Linked DNA regions of Homo sapiens: region 1 is linked to region 2. Evidence: fine-mapped expression QTL. Tissue or cell type: whole blood. Region 2 holds a variant in brackets; the other region holds the start of a gene. All regions are shown on one strand. Distances are from middle to middle.

Region 1 (4,383 bases), 30 kb before region 2:
CTTTAGACTCCTTGCCAAACTAAGGCTGGATTCACAGGCCCAAAGACAAATGAGAACCAGACTGGCCTTGAAGGGGATGCTGCAGCTTTTTCAAATGAATTGAAAAATCTGAACATCAGATGATAGGGATTTCCGTCAGGTTGCAAATTTTATCTAAATATGTAGGAGCATTATCATCTTGTTCCAACATTTCTATCTCATAAAAAGCAAGGACATTAAAATTATAAAATTAAGCATGAGTAATACACAAAGAATAAACTAGAACACCAGGAAATAACATCGAAAATCCTCTAAACCTAGTGGGAAAAGTGAGCCAAAAAGAGTGCCAAGTTCTCCTGCAAGGCATTAGGCACGGATACCAATTTGAATTCCTGTACAAACCTACAAAGTCCCTGGAATCACTGCCTGGCAAACTAAGTTCCCATTCGACTGCAAAGCAACACTACCTACTCCTTCGTATTTCCAAATAGACCATGTGTATCGGCTCAGACAACAGAATATTTTAAATCTATTCCTTGAGCTAAAGGATACCATTTAAAGCTAACGATCCTGTGAATAAGATACTACACTGGTCAAATTTTAGGCTTTTTCTTTATAAATACATCCAAAGGCCAGCTAACTCTTAACCGTTGTTTGCATTCGGATTCCTGGTCTGATGACTCTTAGGGGCAATCAATGGGAAGTGAAGTTGAGAAGAAGGTGGGTGCAGACGGCTTTATAACTGTAAAAGTAAAGGACTAGCTAAAAGTGGCCGAACAGAGGAGCTGACACTCGGGAAAGTGAAGGTCGGGGAAGGTTCGTGCGGTTGTTAAAGCAAGACCGGGAAAGGGCAAACCTGGAAGAGGAGTGAAGGACTCTACTTCACGGGACGCAAGATAGGAAGTGCAGGTTAAGCAAGCGCGCAGGTGGGGAAGGGTGTTGGCCTCCCCTAGGATGGAAAGAGTTCAGGTGGGAATTAGAAGGAAACAGCCAAGACTTCACAGAAAACCTGTTTGAATAAGGAGGAGGGCGTGAGGTGACGCCAAGGCATTGTGGGGAACTCGGCTCACACACTACCAGTCCCAACTGAGCAGGAGAAACCCAGCAGGAAATGGCTCTGCTGGCGCAGAGGCAAGCGTTGCCAGCCCCTGCGCTCGCTGCTGGGGCTGCGCCCTCGGAGGTTACCTTTGAGCTGGGGCAGCGGGTGCAGCTCTGCCTGGCTGCCCTGGCTGCGAAACTGCGACGAGCCCTGGGAGCGCTTCTGCCTCTGCGCCTTGCGGACCGATTTCCGGGTGAAGCCGTCCACTTTCTCCGAGGCCGAGATGGCGGCGCTGGCAGCCCCCGCCGGCGGCGACGACGACGACATCTCCGCGGCCCTGACGCTTGGCAGCTCCGGCTGCTGCTTGCAAGGCACGGGCAGCGGCGGAGACGGCAGGAGGAGGCGGGGGAGAGGCGCGGGGTGCTCGCGCCCCTGCGCCCCGGCCCCACGGCCCTCCGGCCCCGGGACGCCGCCGAGCTTCTCCTCGCCGCCCGCCAACGCCTCACGGCCACATCTCAGCGCTGGAGGTTCCTGGTCCCCGGCGCGCGGCGAGCTCCCGGGGCTGACGGAGGGAAGGGCGGGGGCGGAGGGGGGTGAAGAAGTTGTTGACTCTGGGCGCGCAGAGCGGGTGGAAGAGAGCCCGAAGTTTAGACAACTGAGGCGGGGGCACGGGGGTGCGGGTGCCGAGCGCGCCTCTCGTCGCTTCTGCCCCCGTCGCCAGCCAGCCGGCCGGCCAGCACCTCAGCGGCCGCTGCCAGCGCAGCCCGCCCTGCCTGGAGCCTCCTCTCAGGGCGCTGCCATCGCGGGTCCCCTCGGAGCCACTGCCGCGGTGCCCGCTCTTCCCGGTCAACGCCGGCCCCTCATCGCCCGGGGCGCTGCCCCGTAGCCCCGGCCCTCTGCGTGCACACACTCGCTCCTTGCCGCGCTGGGCGGCCCGAACCCCCTCCCCCACGCGCCCGTCGGCCGCCCACGGAGAACCCCAGGCGAGCGACCGCTACAACTTGAGAAGGTGGTTGGTACAGGCGACTGGGGAGTGTGTGCGCGTGTGCGCGCGCCAGGGCGCGCGGCCCGGGGAGGGGCCTCGCAAGGGGTGGGAAGGAGGAGTTTGACTGACAACTTCCGCGGGGTCCCGCCCGCCTCTTGGTGCGGCGGCGGGGGAGGGGGCGGGAAAGCATGCCAGCCCTCTTAGCCAATCACACGGCTAAGCGGCAGCGACGGCGTGAGGTGCGGCCTCTTGAGGCAGAGGAGTGGGGCGGGCTGTGTGACGGGCTTCGGCCACAGCCAATCGTAAGTGAAGACGGCGAGCGGGGTGCCCCTGCGTCAGAACAAATGCGGCAAATCGCTTGGGAGGGAGGGGAAGCGCTCCTCCACCAGCGGGCATTTTTGCGCTCACGCGCGACTGCTCCAGGCTGTCATTGCTCTCCTGACCGTCTACGAGAAGACTGGGAAACTTGAGAGGGTGCGTTCAGAGAGCAAAATAGAGCGCCCCTTCCCTTCCCTCACCTCTCTGCTGGCCAATGAAGAACTGAAGCGATTGGTGGGGCGCCGGAGGGCTGGGGCGCGAAAGAGCGCCAGGTGTTACACCACTGAAAGGGGGCGCAGCAGAGGTCAGGTGGCGAGCAAGCAGTGTGATTGACGGGCGAGGGGCCCGGGGAAGGCGAGAAGGTGAGCTCGTCCAATCGTTGCGAGGTCTGGACACCTGGGCGGGTCTTGGCGCCTTACTGGCCCCAAACCGCAAAATTGGTAGTTGCGGAATAAATTTGTAGCTCTTGGGAGGTTCGGACTCCGCAACTCCAGAGAGCTACTCTCGCGTGGGGTTTGGGCAGTCTAGCATCTGCTGCTTCAAAGAGTTCTGCAAGTCCACGCCCTCTAAAAAGAGATTTCTCATTCCCAATTTAGTATCCTGCTAATTTTCACCCCTCCTTGAGCCAAAGGCCCTCAACTACTCCAACGAGAAGAGTACAAATTCATTGGTCAGTGGTGTGTGGATATGGAGGCTTGCCATGTACTCTTACCGGAATCTCTTTCTTGGAGATTCCGTCTAGATTTTGAATTTCTTAAGGACGAGGACTGGTCATCTTAGTTTTTCGTGCAGTGCTTTCCATACGGTGGCCGTTAATAATTATTAATCTGAACAGTCAGCCTCCCTTTGCGCCAATGGACCCAAATCTGTAATCCCCTCCCTCGAGCTCCAGACCTTTTCCTTTCAACATAATAAAAGTAATTGTCGTATATTTAAACGAAGCCACCTGATGCATATGTACAGAAGATTCCAAATTTGGCAGGAAGTTGAATTCTAGACCTAGAACCAAACATACTATCCTCAAAACATTTCCTCCTTCAGATTTGCTGGGCGGTGAAATTGTACATAATCCTCCCAGTCAAGGAGGTTCAAACCTCAGCAGCGTTTCTGACACTTTTCGCTTTCTCACATAGTCAAGCTCCAGATCATGTTAAATCTACTTTCACAATTGGCGTTTCTCCCAATGTGTACAAAGACCGCCAAACGTAGTTCACGGCTTTCAAACTCACTGCCACATCAATCTTTTAAGATCACTTTTATCTTACCTGCGTGTTTGAGGAACCACCCAATACCTGCAGAATAGAGTCCAAATTCAAGACTCTCTGCGATCTGACTCCTGTCTTTCCAAGTGTAAATTCCTACATGTGCCCACAAAAACTCTTTTTAGTTCAGGCACATCATTCCACATACTGATCCCCTAAAAGAAGTTATGCATCCTCAACACTTAGTCTTTGCTGTTCCAACATCTTGAAATAATCCACTTTTTTTTTTCTTTTTTGAGACGGAGTCTTGCTCTGTCACCCAGGCTGGAGTGCAATGGTGGCACAATCTCGGCTCACTGCATGCTCCGCCTCCCGGGTTCAAGCGATTCTCCTGCCTCAGCCTCCCGAGTAGCTGGGATTACAGGCACCTGCCACCACGCCCGGCTAATTTTTTGTATTTTTAGTAGCGACGGGGTTTCACCATGTTGCCCAGGCTTGTCTCGAACTCCTGACCTCGTGATTCGGCCACCTCCGCCTCCCAAAGCGCTGGGATTACAGGCGTGAGCCACCGCGCCCGGCCCATTTTTTTTTCATCTTTTTGAAATTTCTTTTCTTCAAACCCCCTATCTTTTATGAAGCTTGACAATCCAGCCAGAAGTGATGCCTCCCTTCTTTGTATTCCTATTGCATTTAGTGTCCACACCACTCACAGCTGAAAGTTTGTCAACACCAAGAGAGCAAGAACTCAGTTATTTTATTTTACACCTCTGTTTCCCCTACTGAGCAGAGGATAACAATCACATTTTTAGTTCTCAACAGCAGAATTTCTGAAAGCGTGGTTACTGGATCACCTGCATCAG
Region 2 (4,383 bases):
AGCCTCGACCTCCTAGGCGCAAGTGATCTTCCTACCTCGGTCTCCTGAGTAGCTGGGACTATAGGTGCACACCACCATCCCCAGCTAATTGTTTTTAAAAGTATTTTTTGCAGAGATGGAGTCTCACTATGTTGCCCAGGCTGGTCTCAAACTCCTGGGCTCATGCATTCCCCCTATCTCAGCCTCCCAAAGGCTGGGATTGCAGGCATGAGCCACCACGCCCGGCCTAAACCATTTTTATTCTCATCCAATGGTCTGAAGTTGAGAACCGTTGGTCAAAGTTAGGAGTGCTGCCTGTGACACTGGAGTGGATGGAAGTTCACTGGCCCACAAAGGAATCAGATTCGTGACCTTGGCCCTATTACCACTAAACCAACTAGGATATTAGCCCAGAGGCCTGGCAAAGATAGAGCTTGGCCACAACTCCCTTGAGAAAGAGCAGGCTACTCTGCAGATGACCATTTCTAGATCCCCATGGTTTCTGGGCAGTCTGACCCCAGATCCCCAGTGACCAGCTTCCCCTCACCCCAGATGGCTTCCTGTTTGAATGGTCTTCCTACTTCATTAGGTGGGAATAAGTCAAGATAAATGCCACTCAAGCCTATGTCAAGATGGTTAAGAGGAGGGGGCTGGGAACTAGGCACATCTGAATCTGCATCCCAGTGCTGCCGCTTGGTGCTACCTGGTCTTGGGCAAGTTGCTTAACCTCTCTAAACCTTATTTCCTCATGTTTAAAAAGGGTATTGTGATAGCTGCTACTTCATGTGTTTGCGGGGTGATTAAAGGAGAAAAGGCATGTAATGTGTGGAGCACTATGCTTGGAAGACAGTAGGTACTCACTTGGTGGTAGCTCTTCTTCATACATTCATAATATTGTAAATAGTGATAATAAGAAGCCATATTGAAAGTGATTACAACAAGACAGGGCCATGTTGGCCGTGCTCTCAGGACACAACCCCAGTCACTCCTGCCTGCCTTCTCCCAAGGTGACCCAGTTAGACAGTGCCAGCTTTGTTGGGGGCTGCTGAGTGAAGTGAGAATCCTGGCCTGCATCAGGCTGCCTGGGCATGACCCCTGAGCTAGCAGCCATGGGAGGGGAGCAGAAGGGGCAGGGGAGAAAGAGTGTGCTAGTGGGAGGGCTGGGACTTTGAGGAGGAAGTGGGTTTGTGGTAGGGACAGGGTGGGGTAAAGAAGAGGGATGGGCAGAGCTTGAGAGATTTTTAGCAGGAAGGAAGGCAGTTGAGCAAAAAAAGAAAAAAAAAATCCCTTTGTGTCTTATTGGCCTCTTGCTGTCATTTGCTGAAAATGAGGACTCAGATAAACCAATGCAAATCTTCTCGGGTATCACAAAACTCAGGCCTCTCTCTTTTTGTGTCTTTTGTGGGGCATGAGAGAGGTACGGTCTCATCATTGTCCTATCTGCAGCTCCAAAAAAGAAAAAACGGGCTGTGTTTTTCAGATGGTCAGACCATCAGACCAAGATTTAACATGCCTTTTTCAGCCTAAAAGTCTTCTTGCACAACCTGGTGTTATTTCCACAGGCAACTGAAGTAACTCTGCTCTTGAAATCCTGCCCCATGTGACTTTTTCTTGTTTGTTAGCCCAGTAACTAAATAGTCATGACAGGAAGAGAA[T/A]CCCCCTGTTCTGTGAGGCAGGGACCTGGGAGGTCAGCAGCACCCTGTGGACATCTCCAGGGAGGGCACGTTATATCCTGTGTACTTGGGACAGGGGAAATAGAGCTGGTCCCCACTCTCGGGGGCCTAGCTTAATGCTCCGTGTCGTTCTTCAGCCACACAGTTATCCAACCGAGAGGCAGCTCGGTGTAAACAGAATGACTCTAGAGCCATGCCCCATGGAACACTGGGCAGGTTCTCCTATCACAACAGGAAGCAAAGTCACAGGAGAGCAGGATGTCAAAAGCGAGGTTTCTTCAGCACCTGTGGAGACACCAACTTGTCTCCTCACCCTCCCCCATAGTTCCATCTTGGCTAGACCACTCACTTTCCCAGATTCATTTTCAGACCTTCATCCTCAAACTTCAATCAGGTTTTATATGGGAAAGGGGCCGGGGTGAACGATTTCATCCCAGTGGATCTATTTGATTCTGAGTCTCCTCATCTCACCCCTGAAATAGCCTATTGTTTGGAACAATCTGTTGTTTGAAATATCTCAGCTTGGTTGTTCTGTTTCCACCCATTTTGCACGTTCAAAATCAACCCCTAATCCTCATCTCCCAAATCATCTCAGTTTCCTTATTTCCATTAAACAGGACAGCCATTTATCCCATTGTTCAAGTACTACTTTGCCTCACCCATACTAGCTTCATAAATGGTCACCAGCAGATTCTGCTGATTCTTGATTCATCTGAAATGTCTCTTGTCACTGTCACTTCTGTACAATGCAAGCTTTTATCCCTTCCTCATGCCTGGACCTGGGTAACAGCCCCTTACCAGACCTCTCGGACTCACGCCAGCATTATCCACATTAATCTGCCTGGAACACAGGTTGCATCACTCTCTTTGCACAGAAGCCTCATCACTGGCTTCAGTACAAGGTCCAGCCGGGTGCCCAGCCTGGCATTCCCCACATTCCTCTCCATTCTGGCCACCAACTTCCCCAGGCAATCTCCCACCTCCCCAAAAGATACCCACACTCCTGCCATGCTGTTTTAATACCGCACCCTACCTGGTATGGGAGATGGTAACACAGGAAGGGAGAGAGGGAGGGAGGGAGGAAGGGAGGAAGGAAATGCACACTTCCATCTCCCCCGCAAATCTTTCTGTAGTGGTTCTAGTCTTTGCTACTACACCCTCGTCTGAACTCCACCATCAGTGTCTACGCCATTCATTAAAAAACAGACAAGCTACAGATGATGTGCAAGTGTGTTAAAAAAAAAATAAAAAACAAACAAACCACTTTTATTATAAAAATTTTCAGACTTACATAAAAACCCCTATGACCCCATCAACCAGTTTCAATAGCCATCAAGTTTGCCATACGTATTTAATCTATCCTCCCTTTACCTCCCCACCTTTTTGCTTTTTGGCTGAAGTTTTTTTTCTTTCTCTTTTTTTGAGACAGAGTCTCACTGTACCCCAGGCTGGAGTGCAGTGGCACGATCTTGGCTCACTGCAACCTCTGCCTCCTGGGTCCCAGTTCAAGCAATTCTCCTGCCTCAGCCTCCCGAGTAGCTGGGATTACAGGAATGTGCCACCATGCCCAGCTGATTTTTGTATTTTTAGTAGAGATGGGGTTTCACCATGTTGGCCAGGCTGGTCTTGAACTTGCCTGACCTTGTGATCCACCCGCCTCGGCCTCCCAAAATGCTGAGATTACAGGCGTGAGCCACCGCGCCCAGCCTGCTGAAGCATTTTAAAGCAAATTATAGGTGTTATGTCAACTTACTCCCAAATACTTTAGCATGCATCTTAGAAAGGGTATTTTCTTCTATCACCACAATGCCAAAAATTGATAATTCCTTCTTATCTACAGTCTATATTGAAGTTTCCCAAATTGTTCTTTTTAAAAGTTCATTTTCAGAACCAGGTGCGGTGGCTCATGCCTGTAATCCCAGCACTTTGGGAAGCCAAGGCAGGCAGATCACCTGAGGTCAGGAGCTCCAGACCAGCCTGGCCAACATGGCAAAACCCTGTCTCTACTAAAAATACAAAAATTAGCCGGGTATGGTGGCAGGCGCCTGTAATCCCGGGCATGGTGGCTCACACCTGTAATCTCAGCACTTTGGGAGGATTGTACTTGGTTATGTCTGTGAGGTCTCTTTTCAATCTTTTTTTTTTTTTTTTTTGAGATGATTTCGTTCTGTCACCCAGGCTGGAGTGCAGTGGCACAATCACTGCTCACTGCAACCTGAACCTCCCAGGCTCAAGCGATCCTCCCACCTCAGCCTCCTGAGTAGCTGGACTACAGACATGCACCACCATGCCTGGCTAATTTTTGTATTTTTTGTAGATATGGTTTTTTTTGTTTTTTTTTTTTTTGAGATGATTTCGTTCTGTCACCCAGGCTGGAGTGCAGTGGCGTGATCTCGGCTCACTGCAGCCTCCGCCTCCCAGGCTCAAGCAATTCTCCTGCCTCAGCCTCCAGAGTGGCTGGGATTACAGGTGCACACCACCTAGCCCAGCTAATTTTTATATTTTTAGTAGAAACAGGGTTTCTCTATGTTGGCCAGGCTGGTCTTGAACTTCTGACCTGAAGTGATCCACCTGCCTCGGCCTCCCAAAGTGCTGGGATTACAGGCCTGAGCCACCGTGTCTGTCCCAGGATTTTGCTATGTTGCCCAGGCTGGCCTCTAAGTCTTGTCCTCAAGCAGTCCTCCTGCCTCAGTCTCCCAAAGTGCTGGGATTACAGGTGTGAACCACCACA

What was found. PIP is the estimated chance that this variant, and not a neighbour inherited with it, causes the effect.
Region 1: it holds the start of PPP2R5A, and the variant in region 2 is fine-mapped to the expression of PPP2R5A in whole blood (TOPMed, PIP 0.98).

The regions. Positions count from the first base shown.
Region 1 is chr1:212,283,073-212,287,455 of GRCh38, reverse strand. PPP2R5A (protein phosphatase 2 regulatory subunit B'alpha) reads right to left here and starts at 2,046. Exons shown (of 13, transcript NM_006243.4): 1 at 1,165-2,046. The coding sequence starts at 1,345. It overlaps LINC02608 (long intergenic non-protein coding RNA 2608), which reads left to right and starts at 2,435. Exons shown (of 4, transcript NR_125984.1): 1 at 2,435-2,477. RefSeq lists a silencer at 1,314-2,283 and an enhancer at 2,454-2,533.
Region 2 is chr1:212,253,314-212,257,696 of GRCh38, reverse strand. All of the region lies in intron 1 of LINC02608 (long intergenic non-protein coding RNA 2608), which reads left to right. Among named protein-coding and RNA genes, the nearest start is that of LINC02608, 30 kb to the left of the region's middle. RefSeq lists enhancers at 1,226-1,405, 1,019-1,520. The variant T/A (reference allele first, on the strand shown) is at 1,635.